Homo sapiens: one gene and its partners. The protein of the gene in region 6 purifies or fractionates together with the protein of the main gene of each other region. This does not show direct contact. Each region holds a gene or a part of one and is shown on either strand. Other genes may lie near its edges.

Evidence for each region.
Region 1: the proteins of NUDT19 (region 6) and GIMAP8 fractionate together in Homo sapiens (co-fractionation; one large-scale study listed by BioGRID). This does not show direct contact.
Region 2: the proteins of NUDT19 (region 6) and GUK1 fractionate together in Homo sapiens (co-fractionation; one large-scale study listed by BioGRID). This does not show direct contact.
Region 3: the proteins of NUDT19 (region 6) and LACTB2 fractionate together in Homo sapiens (co-fractionation; one large-scale study listed by BioGRID). This does not show direct contact.
Region 4: the proteins of NUDT19 (region 6) and RIDA fractionate together in Homo sapiens (co-fractionation; one large-scale study listed by BioGRID). This does not show direct contact.
Region 5: the proteins of NUDT19 (region 6) and PPIL1 fractionate together in Homo sapiens (co-fractionation; one large-scale study listed by BioGRID). This does not show direct contact.
Region 7: the proteins of NUDT19 (region 6) and MYDGF fractionate together in Homo sapiens (co-fractionation; one large-scale study listed by BioGRID). This does not show direct contact.

The regions. Positions count from the first base shown.
Region 1 is NC_000007.14:150,460,041-150,464,367, reverse strand, and holds part of GIMAP8 (GTPase IMAP family member 8), read right to left. Parts: intron 1-4,327.
Region 2 is NC_000001.11:228,142,490-228,146,402, forward strand, and holds part of GUK1 (guanylate kinase), read left to right. Parts: intron 1-2,206; exon of another isoform or gene 2,207-2,263; intron 2,264-3,021; coding exon 3,022-3,135; intron 3,136-3,536; coding exon 3,537-3,578; intron 3,579-3,913. UniProt on the Homo sapiens protein: Catalyzes the phosphorylation of GMP to GDP. Essential enzyme for recycling GMP and indirectly, cyclic GMP (cGMP). Involved in the cGMP metabolism in photoreceptors. It may also have a role in the survival and growth progression of some tumors.
Region 3 is NC_000008.11:70,637,541-70,641,867, forward strand, and holds part of LACTB2 (endoribonuclease LACTB2), read right to left. Parts: intron 3,511-4,327; coding exon 3,362-3,510; intron 1,090-3,361; coding exon 1,008-1,089; intron 364-1,007; coding exon 320-363; 3' UTR 1-319.
Region 4 is NC_000008.11:98,104,120-98,107,610, reverse strand, and holds part of RIDA (2-iminobutanoate/2-iminopropanoate deaminase), read left to right. Parts: intron 1-1,284; coding exon 1,285-1,339; intron 1,340-1,604; coding exon 1,605-1,673; intron 1,674-3,066; coding exon 3,067-3,122; intron 3,123-3,491. UniProt on the Homo sapiens protein: Catalyzes the hydrolytic deamination of enamine/imine intermediates that form during the course of normal metabolism. May facilitate the release of ammonia from these potentially toxic reactive metabolites, reducing their impact on cellular components.
Region 5 is NC_000006.12:36,868,030-36,872,356, forward strand, and holds part of PPIL1 (peptidyl-prolyl cis-trans isomerase-like 1), read right to left. Parts: intron 3,939-4,327; exon of another isoform or gene 3,844-3,938; coding exon 3,689-3,843; intron 1-3,688. UniProt on the Homo sapiens protein: Involved in pre-mRNA splicing as component of the spliceosome. PPIases accelerate the folding of proteins. Catalyzes the cis-trans isomerization of proline imidic peptide bonds in oligopeptides. Catalyzes prolyl peptide bond isomerization in CDC40/PRP17.
Region 6 is NC_000019.10:32,708,531-32,712,093, reverse strand, and holds part of NUDT19 (acyl-coenzyme A diphosphatase NUDT19 precursor), read right to left. Parts: intron 2,910-3,563; coding exon 2,702-2,909; intron 343-2,701; coding exon 137-342; 3' UTR 1-136. UniProt on the Homo sapiens protein: Fatty acyl-coenzyme A (CoA) diphosphatase that hydrolyzes fatty acyl-CoA to yield acyl-4'-phosphopantetheine and adenosine 3',5'-bisphosphate.
Region 7 is NC_000019.10:4,659,717-4,664,043, forward strand, and holds part of MYDGF (myeloid-derived growth factor precursor), read right to left. Parts: intron 2,363-4,327; coding exon of another isoform or gene 2,005-2,362; exon of another isoform or gene 1,990-2,004; intron 1,035-1,989; coding exon 953-1,034; intron 288-952; coding exon 215-287; intron 1-214. UniProt on the Homo sapiens protein: Bone marrow-derived monocyte and paracrine-acting protein that promotes cardiac myocyte survival and adaptive angiogenesis for cardiac protection and/or repair after myocardial infarction (MI).

The DNA of each region.
Region 1 (4,327 bases), on a different chromosome or scaffold from region 6:
CATCTGGCAATAACTTCTCTTGTAAAATATATTTTCATTAAGTAAGAATAACATAGTCCTTAAAATAAGTGGGAAAATATGCAAAATGATGATTGGAAAATGATCTGCCGTCTACAAAGAATCGTATCAATTTGTAGTGTTTTTATTACATGTAAATGAGCATTTTAGGTTCTTTTCCTTTTTATCATACTTATGTGTCCATCTGAAGCTAATGTAAACTCTGTATGAGGAAAGTTTACCCTAGAAACTACTCCAAATATTGAAAATAACAAGTAGTAGTAAAATAATTTACTTTATCCTGCCTATCACTGCTGCCATTGACACCTATACACACTGCCCAGGGGCCTAGGTTCCAGCCAGCTCAGCCCACTACTGCCACCACCAGCGCCCATGCATGCCACTTGGGGGTCTAAGGGCTGGCCCACCACTGCTACTGGCACTGCCAATGCTACATATATCATCCAGGGGCCCAAAGACTGGCCCACCAAACCTGTTGCTGTGGCCAACACACACCACCTGGGAGCCCAAATACTGGCCTACTCGGGTCCTCCACCTGCCACTATCAGTGTTTGTATATGCCACTCAGAGGACTGAGTACTGACCCACATAGCCCATAGTCACCAATACTGGTGCTCATGTGCATCACCCAGGGCCCAAGGGTGAGCCCACTTGGTATCTCTATCCCCAGGAAATCTTACCACAGCCTTCACTAACAACCACAGGCTAAACCACTGAGGAACTTGCAGACATCACTGACATTGATTACAGCCAAAGAAATCATATGAAGACTACACTACTGCACCTACCCAGAATCAAAGCCAAAGCACCCTACCCAATCAACACTAGAGATATGTGTACAGAAAAAAGTCTTTCCCTGTGAAAGCCAATGCATAAAATTGAAAGAAGCAACTGTTACACCAGATGCACATAGTGCAAAAACACAAGAAACATTAAAAAGCAAGGGAACATAGTATCTCCAAAGGAACTCAATAATTCTCTAGTAACAGATCCCAAAGAAAAGAAAATATTGGAATGCTTGAAGAGGAATTCAAAATAATGATCTTAAGGAACATCAACAATATAAAAGAGAACACAGATTGACAATACAAAGAAATCAGAAAAAACAATTCATGATCTGAATGAGAAATTCAATAAAGAGATAGATATTATAAAAAAAAGGAACCAAATGGAAATCCTGGACCTGAATAATTCCATGAACAAAATAAAAAAATATAACCAAGAGCTTCAAAAATAGACTAGATCAAGCAGAAGAAAGAATTTCTGAACTTGAAGGCAGGTCTTTTAAAATAATTCAGTCTGGATAAAAAAAACTTTTTTAAGAATAAAGAAAGCCTATATGACATATGGGACACCATAAAGTAAACAAATACTTGAATTTTGAGAGTTCCAGAAAGATACAAGATGGGAAAAGTCACAGAAAATCTATGTAATAAATAATAGCTGAAAACTTCCAAAGTATTGTGAGAGATGTAGACATTCAGACACAGGAAATTCAAGATTCTCAAATAGATTCAATCCAAAAACATCTTCTCTGAAACATATTGTAGTCAAATTGTCAAAAGTCAAAGACAAAGAAAGAATTCTAAAAACAGCAAGATAAAAGTCTCAAGTCACATATAAAGGAATCTCCATCAGACTAACACCATGTTTTATTAGCAGAAACCTTGCAGGTCAGGAGAGAATGGGATGATATATTCAAAGTACTGGAAAAAAAAATTTTTTGGCCAAGAATACTATACACAGCAACACTATCCTTCAGAAATGAGGAAGAAATAAAGCCTTTCCCATACAAACAAAAACTGAGGTAATCTATTACCACTGGACCAACCCTACAAGAAATGCTTAATGGGGTCCTACATGTGAAAGTGAAAGGACAGTATCTACCACCATGAAAATGCACAAAGTACAAAACTCATTGGTAGAGCAGATATACAAATGAGAATGAGAAAGGAATCAAATGTTATTACTATAGAAAACCACCAAATTTCAAGGATAAACAATAAGAGTAAAATAAAGGAACAATGTGTCAGGCCTCTGAGCTCAAGCTAAGCCATCATATCCCCTGTGACATGCACATATACATCCAGATGGCCTGAAGCAACTGAAGATCCACAAAAGAAGTGAAAATAGCCTTAACTGATGACATTCCACCATTGTGATTTGTTTCTGCCCCACCCTAATTAATCAATGTACTTTGTTATCTCCCCCACCCTTAAGAAGGTTCTTTATAATCTCCCCTACCCTTAAGAAGGTTCTTTGTAATTCTCCCCTCCCTTGAGAATGTACTTTGTGAGATCCACCCCCTGCCCACAAAACACTGCTCCTAACTCCACCGCCTATCCCAGAACCTATAAGAACTAATGATAATCCCACCACCCTTTGCTGACTCCTTTTTCGGACTCAGCCCACCTGCACCCAGGTGAAATAAACAGCCTTCTTGCTCACACAAAGCCTGTTGGTGGACTCTCTACACATGGACATGTGAGACAAAATGGATATACAAAACAATCCAAAAACAACACAATGACAGGAGTAAGTTCATCTATCAGTAACAACCTTAAATGTAAATGGATTAAATTCACCAATTTAAAGCAAAACAATGACAGGAGTAAGTTCATCTATCAGTAACAACCTTAAATGTAAATGGATTAAATTCACTAATTTAAAGGTATAGACTGGCTGAATGGAATATAAAACAAGACCTAACTATATGCTGCTTACAAGAAATTCACTTCCTCTGTAAAGCACATAGAATGAGAGTGAAGGGATTAAAAAAAACATATCGCACACAAACAGAAACCAAAAACATGCAGGAGTAGCTATACTTACATCAGACAAAATAGACTTTAAATAAAAAACATAAAGACACGAAGAAGGTTATTATATAATGATAGATCAACTGAGCAAGAGAGTATAATAACTATAAATGTATGTGCACCTAATACAGACAGGTAAAGCAAATATTATTAGGGCTAAAGAGAGAGCTAGACCCCAATACAATAATAGGTGGAGACTTTAATACCCCAGTTTCAACATTGGACACATAATCTAGATAGGAAATTAATGAAGAAACATAGGACTTAATCTACACCACAGATCATGTGGACTTAACAGATGTTTACAGAACATTTCCTCCAACAGCTACACAATGCACTTTCTTCTTATAAGCACATAGAGAATTTTCCAGGCTAGACCATCTGTTATGTCAGCATTATCCTGATATGGTTTGAGCATATAATTTATTAGCTCCAATGGTGCTTAGGTATCAGTAGCCAATATGGGATATTGTGTGGAGCCTTTGGCAGGCCCTTATAGATAACTCACAGTACAAACCCTAAAGATTTTGGAGCAAAGCCTTGCTATTGTCTATGAATAACTAGTCACCTTTTGAGAAACAGCTTTTGGCCTGCCGCTGGGCCTTAGTAGACACTGAACACTTAGCCATGGGCCACCAAGTTGACATGCAACCTGAGTATACAGTAAAGTCAGGTGTGCACGGAAGGACTCCATCATCCAATGGAAGTGGTATATATGAGATTGGGCCTAAGTAGGCCCTAAATGCACAAGTTACATGAAAAAGTAGCCCAAATGCCCATGATACCTACTCCTGCTATACTGCCTTCTCTCTCCCAATCTGCACTCATGACCTCATAGGGGAGTTTCCTACAATGAATTGACAGAGGAAGAGAAAACTCAGAGCTGGTTTACAGATAGTTCTGCACAATATGCAGGCACTACCCAAAGTGGACAGCTTCATCACTATAGCACCAATCTGGGACATTTCTGAAGGACAGTAGTCAAGGAAAATCCTCCCAATGGGCAGAACTTTAAGTAGTGTACCTGGTTGTTCATTCTGTTTAAAAGGAGATATGGCAAGTATAATTATATACCAATTCATAGGCTGTGGCCAATGGTTTGGCTGGATGGTCAAGGACCTAGAAGAAACATGATTAGAAAATTGGTAACAAGGAAGTCTTGGGAAGAAGTATGTGGGTAGACTTCTCAGAATGGGTGAAAAACATGAAGAAAACATGAAGACATTTAGTCCCATATGAATGCTTACCAAAGGGTGACTTCAGCAGAGGAAGATTTTATTAAAATAATCATCAAATGGATAAAATGACCCATTCTGTGGATCCCAGTCAGCCTCTTCCCCCAGCCACCCCTGACATCATCCAATATGCTGATGAACAAAGTGGCCATGATGGCAGAGGTGGAGATTATACATGGGCCCAGCAACATGGTCTTCCATTCACTAAGGCCAATCTGGCTATGGCCACCACTGAGTGCCCAGTCTACTAGCAGC
Region 2 (3,913 bases), on a different chromosome or scaffold from region 6:
AGGAGGGAGGAGGGGAGGCCTGGGAGCCTGGGCTTGGCGGGGTAAGGGTGGTGCAGGGGCAACACCTGTGGAGGAAACAGGCGGGGTTGGGGCCCACCAGCGTCTGCTGTCTGCTCTGTGCTGGGTTGCATCTGTTGGTGTCTGATCGTTGTCAGGGCCCTGTGGTGAAGAGACACACCTGCCACTTGCTGCTTGCGAGGAAAGGGGGAGATCCCCAACCCAGGAGCCAGAGGTGGGACTCCAGCACCCCCCATTCCTGGGAGTTGGAAGTGAGGCACGAGCTCCCCAATTCCTGGGCATCGGGGATGGGGTTTGGGGCCGAGGAGGGGATGGAGACCAGGGTCTTGTGGTAGTTTGGTGGGATCCTCAGAAGGTGTGGCTCTCCCCCTTCTGAGGACGCAAAAACTCCCAGAGTTTTTGGCGATTGATGTGCCACGTGTGCCTTGTGCCCTGTGCTGGGCGAGTGTAGGCACAGCTGTGCAGACGACGCCCTTGGCAAGGCTGGAGCCTGGACCCCTGCCTGGCAGCAGCTGGGCGAACTGGTGTCTTCTGCCTGTGGGCCCAGCTTCACTTCACTAGCTTAGCGCTCCCTCAGGAGGGAGGAGGGGAGGCCTGGTCAGTGGAGGTCACCACTGTGTTTCCTTCTGTGTGGGTTTATAGTCACGTAGCATCTAGGTTCAGACCCGAAGAGCTTGGAGCCAGGGGCTGGGGGGAACAGGGCAGGACCGGCCTTGGGGCAGCCCTGTCAGGCCCACCAGTGCCATGCTGGTTGTGGGTTGGCAGGGCAGAGTGACCTTAAGAAGGGCCAGCTCAGTGGAGCAACAGGACAGAAGCTCACATGGGGTCCAGCCCACAGGACCATTTGAGTAGCTCTCCCATATCGGGTCCTTCGAAGCACATGATTTAGCTTTACTTTTTCTCCTTCGTATTAGAAAAGTCACCATAATACCATCAAGTCATAATTTCTGTGATCTCAGTGCTTCAAGTAGGTGTGTAGCAATTGCTGGATGTGTCCTGAGAACTGTACCCCTTCCACCCTGGCGAGAAGCAGGGGCCAGAAATTCACACAAGTGGCATGGCTCATTGATTGTGGGAGACTCTGGGGGGCTCCTAGCTAGTGCATTATGGGAACCAGGCTGTGGAGGTTGCAGGGCTCGCTGGCTGGGAGAAGCTGAATGGATAAAGAACCCTGGCCACTGCAGTGCGTGCTGATGGTTGGCTGGCACGTAGAGGAGGTGGCAGGGCTGGGTGAGCAGCAGGAGCCAGGTTAGTGGGGAGGCCCGAGCTAAGCGCAGGGGCAAATTCTGCGGGTGGGAGAGCCAGGAGGGCATGGGGTGCATGGTGAGATGAAAACGATGTGTGCTTGTGACAAAAAGCCCAGAAGAGGCAGTAAGGAGGGAGGAGTCTATCCCTTATGGAGAGCACATGGACTTCTGGGTGGGTGTCCTGCAGTTCCCTTCCTCTTGAGTCTTTTTAACTGGGGGTCCGGTGTGTTTGTGATCAATGACATGTATGCGTGTGCATGTGTACCTTTGCAGGTACACATGTGTGGTGTGTGTGCATTTGCTTGGTGTGCGTGCATTTGTGTGTGTGTTTGTGTGTGCATGCATGTGTGTGTGTTTGTGGTAGGTTTGTGCACACATCCTGCATACCTTTGTGCCTGGGAGTGGCATGTGTGTGGTGGGTGTCGCTGTGCATGATGGAGTTGCAGCCGTGGTGCATTTGTGAGATTACCTCGGTGGCCTAAATTGGGGATTAGGAGGGCATCCTCAGGTCCTTCCCACTGTCTGCTCGTCTGCCCACAGGCGGCTGTGCCCTAAACAGGAGGAGGCCATTCACGCCTCGCCTGAGTTGTGTCCAAGGTGTGCGTGTGGCCAGGGGTCCATCCGCTTCCCTCTAGCCCAGCCCCTGAACACAGCTGCAGTGCACGGCCCCACTCCTCAGCTCTGCTCCCCATCCCAACTCGAAGACGCTGCCCTGGCCCTGTGTGTGCAGCTCATGTGGACTGGGAGGGCAGGGCAGGTGCAGGTCTTGGGGCAAGAGCTGGAGCTGTCTTTTCCTTCCTGCACAGCCGCAGAGCAGGTGGATGGGGCTGCTTCCCTGCAAGGGCCCAGGGCCAGGCCCCCTGGGGATTTATTCGTGGCTTAGAAGGGTGGGGCCAGAAGCAGGCGTAGTGGGGATTAGGGACTCAGCACCCCCAGCTCTCAGTCCAGCAGACAGACCCACCCCAGGCTGACTACAGAGGCTGCACCTCAGCAAACAGGTAGGCCCTGTTCTTGGGGAGGATTCCCACCAGGCAAAGGCCAGCTCCCGGGCCCTCACCTGCCACGTGTCCAAGCTAGGATCCTGTTTGCCTTTCCCTTGGGGGCTGGGAGGGAGGCCTCCAACCCCCTCTGGCATTACCAGCATCACAGATAGGAGTCCCAAGTCCTATGAGAAGTTCCTGGAATAGGTGTAGATTCAGTAGATCTTTACAAGACCATATCTGCAGGGCAAGGTACCAGAGGACAGAGGCGGGGACAGGGACACTTCCATTCCAGACCTAGCAGCCCAGCACTCAGCACCATGCATGGGAGCAAATGGCTGGACTCCTGGGTGGGGTGGGGGTCTCAGAGCAGGCTCCCAGAGGGCTTGGAGGTGACTCCACCAGGTGGGGACGGCAGCTCCCAGGTAGGGTGTCATCAGAGTAGACAGCATTGCTTGCTAGGGACCCCTGGGGAGGCTGACAGGGTCAGTGGGTTTCAGTTGGGGGGCTCCCCTGCTGAGAACCCAGTAAAGCCGGCCTTCCATTCGTCTCCCGTGTGCCCAGAGCCTGGTCTGAGGGCCGCCCTGTGCATGCCGGCCCTTCCAACGTGGCAGAGCTCAGGGGGAAGAACACCCAGGCTCTCAGGAGACTCTCAGGCCAATGTCTCCATCCCTGGGTCAGCCCTTTCCTGCCATGAATTCAGGAAGGCAGAGGCAGCTCAGCAGATGGGGACTAGAGGCCGCACTGCTATCCACAGCCTCTCTTCTCACCCCCAGGCATGTCGGGCCCCAGGCCTGTGGTGCTGAGCGGGCCTTCGGGAGCTGGGAAGAGCACCCTGCTGAAGAGGCTGCTCCAGGAGCACAGCGGCATCTTTGGCTTCAGCGTGTCCCGTGAGTCCAGGGCTCTCGTGGAGGGGTGCGTAGACCTCAAGGCTGCTGAGTAGTCCTAGCACCGTGAGCAGGCCAGGAGCCCAAACCCAACAGGCACACCCACCCTGCAGACTGTCCGAACTCTTGCACACTCCCCCCCACACAGAACCTGAGGTTATCACACTCCTGCTGTCCTGCGTGCCTGTGTCTCCCTTCCCTGGGTCTGTTGAGTACTGATAACTGGGCCACAGTGTTTCTTTCTGGGAGAACCCTCGCCTTGTAGGCTCCTGCGCCTTCCCAGTGGTGTGCTTCACTGGCTGCCTGCATCCTGGGGCTCAAGTGCTGTCGGGACTGCAAGGGAAACGCTGGGTGGGGCATTGGGCTCCGAGCAGCCCCCGATGGGTGACAGGTCTCTCTGCTAGATACCACGAGGAACCCGAGGCCCGGCGAGGAGAACGGCAAAGGTGAGTGGGGTGGGGCCCTATGGCTGGAGCACCCCCAGTGTGGGCAGGGCTGCTGGGCCCTGCAGCTGTGTTGGCTGTGCTGCCCGTCTCCTGCCCCCATCAATCCCTAATCTGTGAGATGGGTCCTTGCCTCCAAGGGCCGGTGAACTCAATCAGGGTGTCAGCGCCACAGCGTGGTGTCGCCTTCCTTGGGTACAGTGTGAGAGGCCGGCCAAGGCCTGGGGCTGTCTTCCTCCCACCTTGGAGGCGGCCACAGTGCTGCTGTCCCCAGCCCTGTCCTGGACTCGGCACTTATCAGCACTTTTGAGCTGTCTTCTGGAGTCCTGGTAAAAAGG
Region 3 (4,327 bases), on a different chromosome or scaffold from region 6:
CAAAAATAATATCAACTTTAAATTAGATAAATTTTATTATTTTTAAAGTAATCATTTTATTTAATCTATTGAAAACTGATAAACTATTAGATTATGAATTTTTGGTAAAACGTTAGAAGACAAGGTTAGAGAAATAACCTATCATATGGTTGTATAGTGTAATTTACATATTTTAGCATAAATATAACATTATTTTAAAGTATATCTAGGGTTATTTTTAATGTTTTATACTTTTATATTCTCTATAAAATAACCTATAGTTAAGAAAACATACCATTCTCTGAAAGCAAAATAAAACAAAGCTTTCTTTAATCTGAAACTAAAGATGAGCTTTCCATTTCTTGTCAGGATCTGTGTTGCTAACTGTAAAAAGAAAATCAGAGAGTAAAAATTTAACAATAGATAAGTAAATGCACTGAATTTTAAGTTACCTTGTGGCTAGAAAAAGCATTCATTCTTAAAATAATTTTGTTGCTCAATATAAAGTTGGGTATTTTTGGTACATGTAAAAACATTGCTAAGGCTTCTACATCAAATTCAAGCTTAGAATTCTGGATTTTAAGGATTACATTTCTATAAAGATTATTAGTTTGACAAACTAACACTAGAAAATAATTACATAATTACTGCTTTGACATCTCTAAGTTTACTACCTTTACCACTGTTTAAAACCTTTGGCTGTTCCCAAATCTACCACATGTGAAATTCTTCGTGGTTTTTGGGTCTGGGAGAAGAAAAGTTATCTTCCTGCTACATGTCTTTGATTGCCATTCTGGTGGGTAAGGATTGGAATTCCAACTGAGATTCTAATTCCCCTGGGAGCTTTTGGTTCCAGCTTGTGGTCCACTGGCCCTGTGCTACTGACCTTCCTAGCGCCTGTCTCTCCAACTTAAAGTGATATTCATGGGAGAACTCTGATGGGTATTATTTTTCCTCAAAGGAAACTAAGGCATCTGTAAAAATATTTTAAATGCTGGTAATAGAAGAAAATTTGGAAGCATACTCACATATTTTTCCTTCTTTTTCTAGTTTTTTCAAATGAAGTAAGAGATTATGTTTAGCCATTTCATGTAAATTCTCAGGAGTATTCTAAAAGAAAAATGAAGGTGAAAAAAATTCCTTTTTTTTTAAAAAAAAGAACACAGTTAATTTTTTGAAAGCTTTGAAGAAAAGCAAAATGTAGCAAAAGTTTATCTTAAACACATTTTTTTTTTTTTTTGAGACAGAGTCTCACTCTGTCGCCAGGCTGGAATGCAGTGGTGCATCTCGGCTCACTGCAACCTCCGCCTCCCAGGTTCAAGCAATTCTCCTGCCTCAGCCTCCCGAGTAGCTGGGACTACAGGCGAGCACCACCACGCCCAGCTAATTTTTGTACTTTTAGTAGAGACGGGGTTTCACCATGTTGGTCAGAATGGTCTCGATCTCTTGACCTTGTGATCCACCTGCCTCGGCCTCCCAAAGTGCTGGGATTACAGACGTGAGCCACTGCGCCTGGCCTATCTTAAACACATTTTTAACTTGTTTGACATTTTTAACAATTTCACTTTGTATACATCTTGTTTTATATTCTATATATACTCCTATAGATAGAATAGGTTGTAAGCTCCATAAAGACAGTAGCAGTATCTTTTTTTTTGAGACAGAGTTTCACTCTTGTCACCTAGGCTGGAGTGCAATGGCGCGATCTCGGCTCACTGCAACCTCCACCTCCCAGGTTCAAACTATTCTCGTGCCTCAGCCTCCCGAGTAGCTAGGATTACAGGCGTGTGCCACCATGCCTCGCTAATTTTTGTATTTTTAGTAGAGATGGGGTTTCACCATGTTGGCCAGACTGGTCTCGAACTCCTGACCTCGGGTGATCCGCCCGCCTCGGCCTCCCAAAGTGCTGGGATTACAGGCGTGAGCCACCATGCCCGGCCTGGCAGCAGTATCTGTTTTGTTCATTACTGAATATTCAGTGTTTAGCATAATAATACATAGCAGAAACACATTAATATTTTATGAATGAATAAATGTAAAATTATTCTTAGAAAGTTTTCATGATGCTACAGACAGTTGGCCCTGTAATTTATTTATTAGGTTACAGGGTAATATCTTTGTATATTTTAATTTAAATTTAATTTTTTTAAAAAAGTTTTTGGGCCGGGCGCAGTGACTCATGCCTGTAATCCCAGCACTTTGGGAGGCTGAGGCGGGTGGATCACCTGAGGTCGGGAGTTCGAGACCAGTCTGACCAACATTGAGAAACACCATCTCTACTAAAAATACAAAATTAGCTGGGTATGGTGGCACATGCCTGTAATCCCAGCTACTCGGGAGGCTGAGGCAGGAGAATCGCGTGAACCCAGGAGGCAGAGGTTGTGGTGAGCCAAGATGGCGCCACTGCACTCCAGCCTGGGCAACAAGAGCAAAACTCCATCTCAAAAAAAAAAGTTTTTGAGATACAGTCTTGCACTGTCACCTAGGCTGGTGTGCAACGGTGCGATGTAGGCTCACTGCAGCCTTGACTTCCCAGGCTCATGTGATCCTCCCATCTCAACCACCCGAGCAGCTGGGATCACAGGCATGTTCCATGACACCTGGCTCATTTAAAAAATTTCTTGTAGAGATGAGGTCTCACTATGTTGCCCAAGCTTGTCTCGGACTCCTGGGCTGAAGCAAACCTCCCACTTAGCCTCCCAAAATACTGGGATTACAGGGGTGAGCCACCACGCCTGGCCACAAAAGCTTACATTTTTAACCTCTAAGCTATGCTGCCTACACAGCAGACATCTAATAAACATTTGCTGAAAAACTGAATTATACTGACTGCTATATAGTGCTGTCAATACAGTGATATTCTCAGAGGCCAGTGAGGTGTAAGGCTCTTTCCCTACATACTATTTTACTCATGTTCTTTGATTTTTTTTTTCTTTTTCTCCATTGTTTGGCATTGCTACTACTTCTCACTGCTTTGCTACTACTTCTCACTGTTAACATTCCAATATTTGTGTCTAGCAGGTCACCCCTCCTCTCTTGGTGCAGGCTGGGACACAAGATAATCAAGATGGCTAGAATAATGCAAAAATTATTACAAAATGTAATCATCAGGCTGTTGGTAGTTTCTCCTACATAGTTAGGCAGTTTCTCCTACATAGTTAAGTATATAAAGTTCAATGATGGCTCGAAATGGCTATCTTTGTTCTCTAAGGCCAGTTTTTGTTTAATTTTAGCACTGTAGAAAGTTTAGGCTGCTGGTCTCAAATCTAGAAAAGTGGCGTAACTTCTGATCTGGGATATAAGTTTATCATTTCTATAGTCTACTAAATAGATAATTCTAATAAATTTGTGGCTACATACAAATAAGAAAACTGAAAATTACCTTGTAAATAATTTTTACAAGCTCCATTACTGTAAATGATTTCTCAAAGTTCTCACGAAATAATGTAAGAATTTGCTGCTCTCGAATATTTCTGTGAGAAATGTATTGTTGAATTTTAGCTTCAGCATTATGAATTACTGGGCCATGTCCTGAATTAAAATAATTATAAGAGTTACTTCAGTCAGATAAAAAAATACTAAGTACAACAGAAGCTAACTCACTCTATTTAAAAATAATTCATATGATATATTGAAAAAGCATACTAAATGTCAAATATGAACTATTTGGAAAGCTATACAGGTGAAAGAGATTTAAAAATTATATACAATACCCCCCAATTAGAAAATTATAGCAAATACAATCTATAGAAAATATTGTGTACATTAAAAATATGGAATAGAAATTTAACAATAAAACACAGCAATAAAAATAGCAACTACAATAATAACAATAGGTAATGTTTATGGAGTGCTCACTATGTGCTAGGCACTGCCCTAAATGCTTAACATACATTATTCTTACAAGAATCCCATGAAGTAGGTACAATTATTACACATTTCTTATGGTAGAAACTGAGACATACGGAGGGTAAATAATCCGTCCACAGTTACATAGCTAAGAAGGGGTGGAGTTAGGATTCTGACAGGATCTCTTAACCACTCTGTGCTCTTGACCATTAGGCTAAGCTTATAAAATACTGCAAAAGGACAATGTAAAAAGCAGTTTCATGTACATGACCAAGCTCTATTAAAAATTCACAAGACCCACAGTAAAACTTTAAGAATCCTATGTATAGGCTTCTGTATGTCAGAAATTTTGACAACCCAGATTAAGTTATACTATAATTTACTTCCCCTTTAAGACAGTACACATTAATATTATATATTATATAAGTCTGCAAGAATGATGTTCTTAAATATTTGAGAACAAAATATCCAGAAGCAGGCTAACCTATTACGGGATCTG
Region 4 (3,491 bases), on a different chromosome or scaffold from region 6:
ATAAAATAAAATAAAACAATAAACTATAATTTACTGCATTTACTGAGTCATATAATGCTGAAAGTTTGTTTTGTTTTGTTTTGTTTCTTGAGACAGCCTTGCTCTGTCGCCCAGGCTGGAGTGCAGTGTCGTGATCTCAGCTCACTGCAACCTCTGTCTTCCAGGTTCAAGCAATTCTCTTGCCTCAGCCTCCCAAGTAACTGGGACTACAGGCACACGCCACCACACCTGGCTTATTTTTTGTATTTTTAGTAGAGACGGGGTTTTACCGTGCTAGCCAGGATGGTCTCGATCTCCTGACCTCATGATCCACCCACCTCAGCCTCCCAAAGTGCTGAGATTACAGGCATGAGCCTCCACACCCGGCCTAGCTGAAAGATTTTTAAAAACCTAAATATCCACTCATAAAGAACTGGTTGAATAAATTATGCTAGATCAATACAACTAAAGTAATGTGGAAAGATCTCCGAGGTAAATTGTTCCATGGTAATAAAACCAAGATGCAGAACAACATGCACAGTATGCTACCATGTGTGCTTGTGTGTTTAAAAATATGTAACATAAGCATTGACTGTACCTAGAAGGATATACAATAAATTAGGAACAGTGGTTACCTCTGAGGAGGGAAACTTGGGAGAGGGAGAGAGGGGTGAGAGATATCTTTACACGGTATATGCTTTTTTAATAGCTTTTGAGTTTTTTTGTTGTTGTTGTTGCCATATCCATGTATTACCTATTTAGAAGATTATTTTAAAAGACACAAGAATATAATGAAATATTGCATTGTGACCAGCAAAGTGGGAAGAGTGAATCCAAAAAAAGATAAATGTTTTTCCAGAAGCCAGTGTCTCCAACTGTTATATAATTTACTAATATTGTTTTTTTGAGAAAAAGGAAAAAGAACCCTTTGAAGTCAAATATTGCTTTAAAAGAAAATATGTTTTAATGCTTACTAGCTCATCCTTATCCTTGACGTGATATCGAATGAAGAACACCAGAAATTATTTCTGTGGACATTGGCTGAACAATTAACACATTTTAGCACTGAAGAAGGAACTTCAACCTAGTCTTTTTACGCACAAAAGGAGACAACATTTTCACCATATATCAGAAAGACTCATTCTATTAAAGGAAAGCCAAGAAACACACTTGTAAGCGAGTAGGGAGGATTTTTCTGCAACATAGGCTATTTAAGGAGGTATTAGTAAAAGATGATTAATTGAATTTAATTAAAGCTTTAAATCTAACATCAGTGACTTAGGCCTTTCTTGGCTTGGTTCACAGGCTCTTAAAAACATGGGTGAAATTCTGAAAGCTGCAGGCTGTGACTTCACTAACGGTGAGCAATTTGATATTATTTCACATTTCTTTTTGATATTTCTTTGGTCTTTTTGAAAAATATATGGCATCCAGTAAGATGCCGTGCCATATCTTTGTTGCTATTTAAAAGTTGTTTTAAATAGCAACTGTTCTACTTCACTTCTTTGGTCCCATTTCAGTCCCATTTTAATCAAGACAGTCTCAGATTCATACACTCTTTTTCTAAGTAATGTTTTGGGTCAGACCAAATAACTAAACCTAATGACAATGTTTATATCTTCTAGTGGTGAAAACAACTGTTCTTCTGGCTGACATAAATGACTTCAATACTGTCAATGAAATCTACAAACAGTGTAAGTAATTTGGCTTTATTCCTATTTTCCATTTTTAAAAAGAAAGAAATCTGGTCACATTAATGAATGTGCATTATGAATTAAGAGTGGTAGGAGATGCTAAAGAAATGGTCATAGATCTTAAAAGAATTAATAATCTGATTGGAAATATGTTGTATACCCCCCATGAAAAAGTTCTAAGACATTTCTATTGCATTCCCTAAAACAATATACTGAAATCCTACATATCCATTTTTCAAAAGCTTAATTTCATTAAATCCTTCTCAGGCTTTTTAAACTCTCCTAACAAGTTTTTTATGCATAGATTTTATTTACTGTGGCTGTATGGTGCAGCCACCATCTTTATCCTGGCTCTCTCAGACTCATTAGTTAGTTACTTAATATTTCTATGCCTTGGTTTTCTCATATGCAAAATGGAGATAATATACTCCTAACTTATAGGGTTGTTGGAATGATTAAATGAGTCAGTACAACATGTAAAGCACTTAGATGCTGGTGTGTTATAAGCACTGAGTAAATGTTAGCTATTATTAACATTGATGTTATAGTAGGGAAAATTGGTGTCCCCAACACCTAATGGGATGAGGCAAAGGTATAACTTGGAAAAAGCATCGTTACTTATTCTCTCCTGAAGAAATTATTAGAAAAGACCAAAGTTGGCAGAGGAAGTACTTGCCAAAATTTCTGGAGATGGGCACTTGTTCCCTATTTAGATAAATAGTTTATAAATATCACTTTAAAAACAAAACTCCATTCACATCAAACAAGATCAAAATGTTAGGGTATGTATTTCTTTTTTTTTTTTTTTTTTTTTTTTGCCAGAAAGCTAAGAGATTTTAAAAAGTATTAACTATCATAGGAATCATATGGCAAAATATTTTATCAAACAAATCTGATAGTGAGCCTCTTTTTTAAAATGTTGCTTAAGGCCAGGAGCAGTGGCTCACACCTATAATCCCAGCACTTTGAGAGGCTGAGGTGGGTGGATCACTTGACATTAGGAGTTTGAGACCAGTCTGGCCAACATGGTGAAGCCCCGACTCTACTAAAAATACAAAAATGAGCCAGGCATGGTGGTGCACACCTGTAATCCCAGCTACTCGGGAGGCTGAGGCAGGAGAATCTCTTGAACATGGGAGACAGAGGTTGCAGTAAGCTGAGATCGCATCACTTCACTCCAGCCTTGGGCGATAGAGCAAGACTCTGTTTCAAAAAAATAAAAATAAATGTTGCTTATATCTAAGAACTGACTAGTATATGAAATATTTGCCAGATTATTAATTGTAGATATTGAATAACAATAGAATATCTGAAAACTAAAATAAAAATTTTCACTTGATCTTTATTTTTTCAACTCTTCTCTATTAAAAAAATGAAATTCTTTTAAATTCAGATTTCAAGAGTAATTTTCCTGCTAGAGCTGCTTACCAAGTTGCTGCTTTACCCAAAGTAAGTACACTTTAAATGACTAATGTACACAGTTTTCAGTTTCTACATTGTTTTCCTTCTATAAGTAAACTAAGCACTGTGAAAGGAAACTTAAAAGAAGTAGCCTGGGCAGGGTGGCTTACCCCTGTAATCCCAGTGCTTTGAGAGGCCAACACAGGAGGATCGCTTGAGGCCAGGAGTTCTAGACCAGCCTGGGCAACATAGCAAGACAGCCATCCCTACAAAAACAATTTAAAATTAGCCATGCATGGTGGTGGTGCACACCTATAGTCCCAGCTACTTGGTAGGCTGAGGTGGGAGGAACACTTGAACCCAGGAGTTCAAGGCTGCAGTGAGCTATAATCGAACCACTGTGCTGCAGCCTGGGTA
Region 5 (4,327 bases), on a different chromosome or scaffold from region 6:
GAGGAGGGGAGAAAGGAAAAGAAAACCCAGGAACTCAGCCTGGGAGAAAGTGGCTTCTCCATGGCTATCTCAAGCTATGGATGATTCAAGAGAAGTAAAAATATAATATAACAAAAGCTCAAAGACAAGATAATACACCACAGAATAAGATGAAAAGATTGCAGAGTGAAGGAAACAAATTTAGATTCAAATGGCATCAGTAATGAGCTAGTAGATAAATTAGAGCAGTAAAGAACAGAATAAAAATGACTGAAAATTGAGTAAGGCACAGAGTAAAGGTCTGAGATTATTTTAGTGAATGCAGGGAAAAAAGAAAAAAAAATCCTATCACACAATCAAAAGAAATATGATAGATATGGAAGGCAAAGGTGATGAAACAAATAACTATATTTCCTGAAATAGAAAATCCAGTAAGTATAACAGAGAAAATATTCAGAAATAGAAATCAAAAAATTAACCCTGATGTAAAGGAAGGAGTAAATCTGGCCTCAGTATTCTCCAAAACCATATTCAAAAATGAGAAGGCAGCCAGGCATGATGGCTCATGCCTGTAATCCCAACATTTTGGAAGGCCGAGGCAGGAGGATCACTTAGGCCCAGGAGTTTGAGACCGGCCTCAGCAACAGTGAGACCTCAACTCTATAAAAAATTTAAAAATTAGTGAGGCATGCTGGTGAATGCCTGTAGTCTCAGCTACTCGGGAGGCTGAGGTAGGAGAAATGCTTGAGCCCAGGGGATGGAGATTGCAGTGAGCCATGATTGTATCACTGTACTCGAGCCTGGGCCTAGGTGACAGAGCAAGATCCTGTCTCCAAAAACAACAACAACAACAACAAAAACAAACAACAACAAAAAACCAAACCAGAAGGCAATTGATCAGAAATGTCTAAAAAGATCTCAGAATGCTATACCCAGTTATGGTCTTTTTTTCTTCCTTTTAAATATTTTTATTTTATTTTAATTTATTTATTTAGAGATAGTGTCTCACTGTGTCGCTCAGGCTGGAGTGCAGTGGGCACAATCATGGCTCACTGCAGTCTCAACCTCCCAGGTTCAAGTGATCCTCCTACCTCAGCCTCCCAGTAGCTGGGATTACAGGCATATGCGACCATGCCCAGCTAATTTTTTATTTTTTGTAGAGACGGGGTCTCACTATGTCGCCCAGGCTGGTCTTGAACTCCTGAACTCAAGTGACCCTCCCGCCTCAGCCTCCAAAGTGCTAGGCTTACAGGTGTGAGCCACCATGCCTGGCCTAAAAAATTTATTTTAAAAAAGTAATTTATCTCTTACAGTTGTGGAGGCTGAGAAGTCCAAGGTCAAGTGGCCACATTTGGTGAGAGCCTTCTTGCTGGTGGGGACTCTGTGAAGTCCCAAAGTGGCACAGTGCATCACACAGTGAGGGGGCTGAGCATGCCAACATGCTATCTCTTTTCAAGTATAAAAGTAACAGGCAGAAATTCTGAAACATGAATGAACTTAAAAATACAACACATTCCAGCTCTTGTAACAAAAAACCACTGGACAATTGTGATTCTTGAGCATTCTGAAAAAAAAACACTAAAAAACCACTAGACAAGAAATCCTGCCCTCCAGCACTTGCGAAGGTAAAAGCGAAGCAAGTTGTGAACACTAAATACACTGAAACGTAGGACCCACACTGTAGCTGAAGGAATGATGAGTGCAGAACAGATAATAATAAAACTAACAACAAAAATTAAGGTCGGGGAAAAATAAGAATGGGTAGAAATTTAAGTACTAATTGCCTCATCTTTCACTGTAGGAAGTCAAATATTCTGTTCTATATATATGAAATTAAATGTAATATGTTCTGTTTTAAAAACAATAGCTTATATATCCTATTTTTTTGAAACTACTTCCATTTATCCTGTCATCCCTTAAACCAGACATGATGGGCACCAAAAGTTAACACTGTTCCTTTCTGAAAGATGGGATATTTAGGGATTAGTTAATGATGGTTAGAAATCTTTAGGAGCTATGCTTATGAATGATTTTTCCCCTTTTCTCTGCTTTCTTATATATTCTGTATTTTGAAATGCATCCATATACATTAAAAAAAAAAAAACCCAAAAACCTGAATGCTTCTGACCATAGATGATAAATCATGAGACGATTAAGAATGACAAAAAAGAACAAGACTGAGAAAAGACTCTGCTATAGAGAAAACCAAACTTGTTTAAAGGCAAACGAGCAGAAATTAGCAGAGAAGAAGCAGACTGAGAAGCAAGGGCCCTTGAAATGAGTAAGGGTTCCACCAGTTCACTAATAAACCCCATCTAAATGCCAGTAACTCCCAAATTAATACCTCCATACCAGGTCTTTCCCTGAACCCCATATTCCTATCCAACTACTTACTCATGAGCATAGTCGGCCCTCCCTACATGTGGGTTCTACATTCATGGGTTCAACTAACCGCGACTGAAAACATCTTGGGGGGAAGCATCTGTACTGAACATGTATAGAACTATTTTTCTTGTCATTACTCCCCAAACAATACAGTACAACAACTATTTACATAGTGTTTACATCTTGCCCCTACATCTATTCTCTAAACAGCAGCTAGAGTGATCCTTTTATTTATTTATTTATTTGAGAGGGAGTCTCAATCTGTTACCCAGGCTGGACTGCAGTGGTGCGATCTTGGCTCACTGCAACCTCCATCTCCTGGGTTCAAGCAATTCTTCTGCCTCAGCCTCCCGACTAAGAACCTGAGATTACAGGTGCCCACCAACCCGCCCGGCTAATTTTTGTATTTTAGTAGACAGAGCGTTTCACCATGTTGGTCAGGCTGGTCTTGAACTCCTGACCTCAAATGATCCAACTGCCTCGGGCTCCCAAAGTGCTGGGATTACAGGCGTGAGCCACCGTGCCCAGCCTAGAGTGATCCTTTTAAAGCATAGATCAGATCATGTCTTTCCTTTGCTCAAAACTCTCCAATGACTCACATCACATCTTACTCAGAATAAAACCCAGTCTCTACCATGCCCTATAAGGTATCATATCTTATGATTTCCAGCACAGGTTCCTGCCTCAGGGCCTCTGTGTTTGCTCTTCCCTCCATCCAAAATGTTCTCCCCACAGTTGCAAGGTTCACTTTCTTACTTCATTCAGATCTCTTCTCCAATAATGTCAGAGAGGAGTTCCCTGACTTTTCTACTAAAATTCCATCCCCACACCCTTTTCCTGCTTTATTGAGAGCAATAATTCTGTCTCTTTGTTTATAGGTATCTCCCTAGAGCTTAAAAAAGTATCTGACACAAAACAGGTACTCAGTATTTGTTAAATGAATGAATCGATAAAAGAACCCAGGATTTTATTATTCTCAAAATATTATAAAGTCTTTCCTTCTTATTGATCAGACTACTTGCATCACTATAATTCAGACAAATATTATTTGTTCTTAGTGAGCAGTACATGTAAGTTATGAAAAACTCTACCAAGCCTAGGAGTAAAGGTTGGTTTCTGGTCAATTCCACACATGTGTGTTTGAGGAAGGCAGGCGTTGTCACCAGAATCAACCAACACAGACCTTAGTAAGTGGAAAAGAGAGCTCTGGCTGCCTTATCACCTATTTACGACAGAGACTTCAGAAACTAATGCTGGCTTTAGAAAAAAAGACGAAAAGGAGAAAAAAAAAAGAAAACATAAACTAATGTTGGCTTAACTGTACCTGTCCCTGTTGGGTCACCTCCTTGGATCATGAAGTCTTTGATAATTCTGTGGAATTTTGTGCCATTGTAGTAACCTCGACGAGCCAACTCAGCAAAGTTCTTACAGGTCTTTGGAGCATGCTTCCAGTACAGCTCCAGCACAATGATTCCCATGCTGCAGAGGGAGAGGACAACAGCTCCAGTAAACAAAAAGGTCAGGGCAGACAGGAGTATTATGGAACTGCTCCAGGACTCTTGATTTTCAAGCTTGTAAGTCATGAAATTGTGATAACCACTGGATTTCATGCTCAGCAAAGGAAAACACCACAATGCAAGTAACATAAACACCCATTATCTTTTTTGAGTAAAACACGCAGGTGTTCTGGGTACTTCTTTTCAGCAAAATAACAAGCATGGAGAACTCAAAATTCTAATACTATACATATATACATATGTATATATATATAGCTATATCTGATTATCTGAAACCAATATAACCAACCCCTAAATTAGGAAAAAAATTCTTACACTTAATTTTTAATTTTTTAAAAAAAGAGACATTAAAATATCAGGAGTTCATATTTATTTAGAAGTTTCTGGGTGGGGGTAGGGACTGGGTAGATGGAAAATAGGAAGATGTTTAATGAATACCTTTTAAA
Region 6 (3,563 bases):
CGAAAAAAATAAAGAAATACTGAATTGCAGTAACTTTTATAGGCACAAACTTCCTTAAGTTTCAAGCAAATGAAAGTCAACCCTCATTATTCATGAGGACTTCAAGTAGGCCATTTTACAAACAAGCTTAAGCACCCTACAAATGGCTTTTTCTTACTACAGAGTTCTTAGGATAAACGTGTTTATACTTTGGCTGAACAGTCACGTGGATATCATAAAGGTGGCGATGGTATGTCACTATCCGGTGAAACTGCTTGCCTTCCTTCATGATTTCCTCAGTCTTTTTTTCAGTAGACATAAGATTTTCCAAAAAGTCTGAATCTTCTAAATATAGCTCATCACCTGAAAAAGGAAAAAATCTGATTTTATTTTTAAATACAAAATTATTTTTCACCATGGCAGAAAGTATAAAATTTTAATTCCATCGAGTATTATTTTATAAATCACTCCAATATACTAATGAAATACAAATCAGTATTTTTATCTATTTCATATGTTTGGAACTGAGATAGTTGTTAAATCAGTATTTATTTTGATCTATTTAATATGTTTGGAACTGAGATAGTTGTTAACTAATCTAATTCTATGAGCTTACCTCAATTTCTTTATTGTGTTTTTTTATCTGTTTTTTGAGATGGAGTCTCACTCTGTTGCCCAGGCTAGAGTGCAGTGGCGCGATCTCGGCTCATTGCAACCTCCACCTCTTGGGCTCAAGCAATTCTCATGCCTCAGCCTCCCGAGTAACTGGGATCACAGGTGTCTGCCACCACGCCTGGTTAATTTTTGTATTGTTAGTAGAGACAGGTTTCGCCATGTTTACCAGGCTGGTCTCAAACTCCTGACCTCAAATGATTCACCCACCTCGGCCTCCCAAAGTGCTGGGATTACAGGCGTGAACTACTGCGCCTGTCCTCTTTCTTGTGTTTTTAATATCCCCTTACAACACCCCAGCCAAGAGTTTTCTTTGGGCCCATAAACATCTGTGACTGGTATGTTTCCACTGTGAACTGTAACTATTATACCAGTTCATGACTCTCTTTATTCTATTCAATACTGATATTAAGATTGGCCTTGATATTCATATACTTTTGATGTTTCAAAGTGGGCTGTTCTTATCATCTTCAGGTTAATTTAGAGAAATTCCATCAAAACTGCTAAATTTTCCCACTGTAGGTTGAGTAATAAATCTTTTTTTTTTTTGAGATGGAGTTTCGCTCTTGTTGCCCAGGCTGGAGTGCAATGGCGCAATCTCAGCTCACCACAACCTCTGCCTCCTGGGTTCAAGTGATTCTCCTGCCTCAGCCTCCCAAGTAGCTGGGATTATAGGCATGCGCCCCCATGCCCAGCTAATTTTGTATTATTAGTAGAGACGGGATTTCTCCATGTTGGTCAGGCCGGTCTCGAACTCTCGCCCTTAGGTGATCCACCCGCCTCAGCCTCCCAAAGTGCTGAGATTACACGTGTGAGCCACCGCGCCCAGCCTTTTGTTTTGTTTTGTTTTTGACAGAGAGTGTCGCTCTGTCGCCCAGGTTAGAGTGCAGTGGCATGATCTTGGCTCACTGCAACCTCTACCTCCTGGGTTCAAGTGATTCTCCTGCCTCAGCCTCCTGAGCAGCTGGGATTACAGGTGTGTGCCACCATGCCTGGCTAATTTGTTTTTTTTTTTTTTTTTTGTATTTTCAGTTGAGATAGAGTTAACATTTTACTTTATTTTCTTCATAATTTCATAATTCATAATTTCAATTGAAATTATGTCCAACTGAAAAAAAAAAACAAAGTTGGCTGGGCACAGTGGCTCATGCCTATAATCCCAGAATTTGGGGAGGCTGAGGCGGGCGGATCACCTGAGGTCAGGAGTTCAAGACCAGCCTGGCCAACATGGTGAAACCCTGTCTCTACTAATAATACAAAAAAATTAGCCAGGCGTGGTGGCACATGCCTGTAATTCCAGCTACTCGGGAGGCTGAGGCAGAAGTATCGCTTGAACCCAGGAGGCAAAGGTTGCAGTGAGCCCAGATTGCACTCCAGCCTGGGTGACAAGAGCAAAACTCTGTCTCAAAAAAAAAGCTCCCTAATTCAAATTAGATGACAACTTACGAGTTCTCGTAATTCAAACTTAAAATGCAAAAAAGTGAGAAATCAGCCAGGCATGGTGGCTCATGACTGTAATCCCAGCACTTTGGGAGGCCAAGGCGGGTGGATCACAAGGTCAAGAGTTCAAGACCAGCCTGGCCAAGATGGTGAAACCCCGTATCTACTAAAAAAAAAATACAAAGATTAGCCGGGCACAGTGGTGGGCACCTGTAATCCCAGCTTCTTGGGAGGCTGAGGCAGAGAATTGCTTGAACCTGGGAGGTGGAGGTTGCAGTGAGCCAAGATTGTGCCACTGCACTCCAGCCTGGGTGACAGAGGGAAACTGTCTCAGAAAAAAAAAAAAAAAGTGAGAAATTATATGAGAAAGACCTTTGTCAATGTCTAGGAAATATATTAATATAAATGTATGTGTATGTATATGACATTATGCAGAATTTCTGGTTATAATAATATGGATATTTTATAGGCTTTGATCTTACTTAGCTAATACCCTGTAGATTACAAAACACAGACTGTAATTCCTGTCTCTACGTTGGGCAATACAGCCATGCAGCCCAGGGCACTGAATGTGAATACTAACAAAAGCACCGATGCTTCACTGGTTTACCTGGTAAAAGATGGACCATCCCATCAGCAGTTAACAAGATGATCGGCAGCCACCTTTCCAGTCCTTCTAATGCACGACCCAAACAAAATTTGTGCAAGTCAGAGAGAGAGGCAAAGTTTGCAAGTCTTCTCACTTCGTAGAACTGTGGGGGTGGCAACCAAATTTCTTTTGATAAGAAACTTTCAGTTGCCTCTGATGGAGATGACCACTGTGAAAGACAAAGGCAGGGTTTCTTAAGGTTTATGCCATAGACAATGTGAGACTTGAGACAGTCAGACCAGTACCTAAGGTAGAACTGAATGTGTAAAATGAATTCATTAATGCGCCCTGTGAGATCCCTCAAAGACAACATGAAAAGATTCAGTGAAGAAAGCTGGGTTGATCCTCTTAAGAGGTTGCTTATTAGGACACTGATCCTCAGAACTAGTAAATAAACCAGGGCAGACCCCTGAGGCTTGACCTGGGAGAGCTGTTCAGCATAAGAGGTGGGAGATGCAGAGAGGGTAAGGTGGTTCCGGTCCCTGCTGAAAGAAGAAAGACTCTGAAGGGTAAACTCATCACAGTAGATGGAGAATTTGGTGCCTGTTCATTCCTCTGGGAAATGGGTACTTGGCTAGATCCTGAGGATATAATGATGGACACCACAAAGCTCTCCTAGGCCCTATGGGGACTTCAGCAACCAAAATGCTTTGTGATGTGGTGATGTGTGCCACATGGTACAACGGCGGTGAAGCATCAGGAGCAACAGCAGCTTTCAGGAAGTCACCTGGCATGACTCAGCCTACAGTCAAGAGAGTAATAACTTGGTAGGGTTTCAGCCAGGCAGTATTTGCCCGGAAAACTTCAGTGGCTTCATTCTACA
Region 7 (4,327 bases), about 28 Mb from region 6:
GCAGCTTTGTGCCACAATGGCACAGCTCTAGACAGAACCCACAGTGCCACAAAGCTGAAGATATTGACGAGGTGGCCTTTATAGAATCAGTTTGTGGATGCCTGGTCTACAGTCTCCAGGACCCCTATGGCTGACCCCCCTCTCCAAACTGCCCCGATTGCCCACCCTTGGATGGGGGTGGCGTCACCTCTACCCCATCCCCATCTTTCCGTACCTGCTGTTTTGGTCACTTCAAATTCCTCAGTTTTCAGAGGGACATCACTTTCCCTTTCAAATGCGGCTTTAGACTGAAAAAGAATGAGTGGAAACTTTACCAGGGCCAGTTCAATGCTCATCATTAGGAAAACGATTGAGTTTGCTTTCCAGAGAAGCACAGACTAAAGCTTTCTACTTTTACTAGAGATGGAGAGGAGACTTTTTTGTTTTTGAGCCAGGACCTCACTCTACTGTCCAGGCTGGAATGCAGCAGTGCAATCATAGCTCACTGCAGCTTCAAAGTCCTGGACTCAAGTGATCCTCCTGCTGCGGCCTCCTGAGTAGGTGGGACTATGGGTGCATGCCAACACGCCTGGCTATTTTTTTTTTACTTTTGGTAGATATAGGGTCTTGCTATGTTGCCTAGGCTGGAATCAAATTCCTGGCCTCCAGCAATCCTCCTGCCTCAGCCTCCCAAATTGCTGGGATTACTGGCGTGAACCGCCGCGCCTGGCCTGGAGAAGTCTTTTCTGGCATATACAAGAGAAGCCAGCAGCAACAGGTTACCAAACCCCCGTGCCCCTGGCCTGGGGGCGTCTGTGTGCCAGGTTCCTGCAAGTTACACACCCTACCTCTGCAGGATTCGCTGTCCCCTCTCCTCCCTGTCCCCATGGAGCCCTCTTGTGGCAGGACATCTCACAGCTGCCCCAGTGCACAGAAGCCACACCCGGAGCCTGCCCCACTCCAAGATACTCACGTAGGCCATGGCGTACTCAATCTCAGCGCCCCGCACCTCTGCCTTGAACTGTGTGAAGTACAGATAGGACTTCCCCTGGGGCCTGCAGAGGAAGAGGGGGCGAGGGAGTCAGGCCAGGCCTGCTGGGTCTGGGTCTGTGTGCCCTGGAAGGAGCCCCGCCAGGGACTCGGGCTGGGGTCAGCAGGTCTCGTGCCTGCTTCTCAACATGGACGCCATTCCCGAGCACGAGCACCTGCTGACTGGGAAGGATGGATGGGGCCCTCTCAACAGCAGACCCTCTTTCTTTTGTGCCAGAATTTTTTTTTTTTTTTTTTTTTGGAGACGAGTCTCACTCTGTTGCCCAGGCTGGATGGCAATGGCACAATCTCACTCACTGCAGCCTCTGCCTCCTGGGTTTAAGTGATTCTCCTGCCTTAGCCTCCCTTGTAGCTGGGAGTACAGGCACCCGCGACCACATCTGACTAATTTTGGTATTTTTAGTAAAAACATGGTTTCACCATGTTGGCCAGCCTGGCCTGAACCCCTGACCTCAAGTGATCCACTCGCCTCAGCCTCCCAGAGGGCTGTGATTAGAGGTGTGAGCCACTGTGCCTGGCCCCTTTGTGCCAGAATGTTCTTCCAGCTCATTCATAGACACGCCTCTCTCCCCTGTGGGCTGGGAGCTGCTCTGGGACAGGACCCCATGTCCATTCACTGCACATGGCTTCTTGGTTGCTGACAGCAATCCAGGTACTACGACGGGGGCTGGGGCTGGGCAATGAGAGGCCAGTAAAGGCTTCTCAGAGGGCATTGACTAGGAAGTACAGGAGTTAACTTAAGAAGTGGGGAGGATCATCTGCCCAGGTCTCTAGAAGGCTGCTAACGGAGGCTTCTAAGGAACTGGAGTGGCAGAAGGTGTCGGAAGGTGACAGCAGGGGATGATGGCATCTCTGGTGTGAAGAGAGTGTGATGGGGATGGAGGGGCAGCAGGGGGGCCATTTCTGTGGAAGCCCTGGCTGGGGTTCTATGTGCATGGGTGGGGCGGGGGTATCCAGGGAGCCCTAGATTCTTCTTTAAGCCCTAGCACTGCCAACAGCCCTGGTCAGGGAGGGTCCAGTCACTGTCTGAGATGAGGAGGCCTGGGGTGGCAGGTCTCCGGGGCTGAGCATGCCCCTGGGGAGCTTTTGTGGGGGTTGGACAGGAGGATTCAGGCTCAAGGTGAGCCCAGCCACCATCCCAACTGCTCCAGACCTGCACCTGCCCAGATGCCCTCTGGGGAGCTGGCACTCAGGGGTCCATGCAGGGCAGTGGCCTGCAGACAGACGATGGCGACCGTGGGCTTCCCCAAGACTACAGGGCGGCCTCTGCAGGGTCTCTCTGGGCTGATGGGGCCTATCTCCTCTCAATGACCCTCCTGATGCCTCCTGGGGCCTTGGCCTGCCTGTGATGCAGCCAGTTCCATGGAGTGGGTGAGAATCTCCCCAGAAACACCTGCTGTTTGTAAAGCGCCCCGCAGGGCACGGCGGGACAACACCCACACGAGGCAGCAAATCACACCCTGTCCTTCAGTTAAACGTCGCCACTCCCTGATCTCTGCCTCCCATTTGTCAACGTGCTTTAACCTGACCGCAGTGGTGGAGCTATAGCTTGGACTTCTCCCTCCAAAGTGTCTGCACAAAATAAAGGCTCAAGAAATACCCACTGTTTGGGCTGAGACATTCTGGGCCAAGGATCAGGGAAGAAGGGACAAGATTCCTGAAGCCCCCGACCCCCTCCCCACCGGGGGGCCTGACGGCTTCCTTCCCTTCATGACCTTGCCCAGATCGAGCTGGGATCTAGGCAGTGGGGTTACGAGAATGAGTGGGGCGAGTGGAGCCGGGATAAGCCCATAAACCATGAGCCTGACAGAGGATGGCGGCAGGGGCAGAATCGGGCGGTGTCTGGGGAGACTTGGGGAGGGGCTGTGGACCCAGATGCATGTGTGTTCGGGCAGGTGGAAGAGAGTGCACAGCTTTTGTCTGATTCCCAGATGTCTGCACCCCAAGAAGGCTATGAGCCATCAGGCTGGTCCTTCAGAGAACATGCTGGTAAAGACCTGCCTGAGGGGAAACAGCTGGGGCCCCTTCTGGTGGGACACATTCCCCGGGAGATAGCATCATCCAAACCTCCACAGCCACTACCCCACAGACTCCCACACCTGCCACCTGCCTAGCTCGTCCCCAGCCCAGACCTGCACCAGCTCCGCCAGTTCCACCAGGACTCTGCCCAGCACCTTCCTCCTCCTCCTACCCCAGCTAGCTGATTCCACAGCCTCCAATCTGTGCCCTCCCCTCCTCCCTGTCCTCATTTTACACAGCCTCCAGTCTGTGCCTTCCCCTCCCACTCCGTCCTCATTCTACAGCCTCCAATCTACTCTCCCCACCCCACTCCATCCTCATTCTACAGCCTCCGATCTACATTCCCCACCCACCTCATCCTCATTCTACAGCCTCCAATCTACCCTCCCCACCCGTCCTGTCCTCATTCTACACAGCCTCCAATCTACCCTCCCCACCCGTCCTGTCCTCATTCTACACAGCCTCCAATCTACCCTCCCCACCCACCCCATCCTCATTCTACAGCCTCCAATCTGTGCCCTCTCCACCCATCCCATCCTCATTCTACACAGCCTCCAATCTACGCTCCCATCCACCCCATCCTCATTCTACAGCATCCAATCTACTCTCCCCACCTACCCCATCCTCATTCTACACAGCCTCCAATCTGTGCCCTCTCCACCCACCCCATCCTCATTCTACACAGCCTCCAATCTACCCTCCCCACCCCATCCTCATTCTACAGCCTCCAACCTGTGCACTCTCCACCCACCCCATCCTCATTCTACACAGCCTCCAATCTATCCTCCCCACCCACCCCACCCTCATTCTACACAGCCTCCAATCTACCCTCCCCACCCACCCCATCCTCATTCTACAGCCTCCAATCTACCCTCCCCACCTCATCCTCATTCTACAGCCTCCAGTATACCCTCCCCACCCACCCTGTCCTCATTCTACACAGTCTCCAATCTGTGCTCTCCCCACCCACCCCATCCTCATTCTACAAAGCCTCCAATCTACCCTCCCCACCCACCCCATCCTCATTCTACACAGCCTCCAATCTGTGCCCTCTCCACCCACCCCATCCTCATTCTGCACAGGCTTCAATCTGCGCCCCACCCCCAACCCCCGACTCCATCCTGGTTGGTGCCTGGAGGGGCTCCCTGCCTCAGCCTGCCTCCTTCAGCCGGGGGGATCTGAGCTCCACATGTTCCTGCAGGGAGCCCTCTGGAATAGGACTCAGCCAGGAAAAGAAATGAGGCTGACACGGGCCTCAGCATGGATGAGCCTTGAGGAC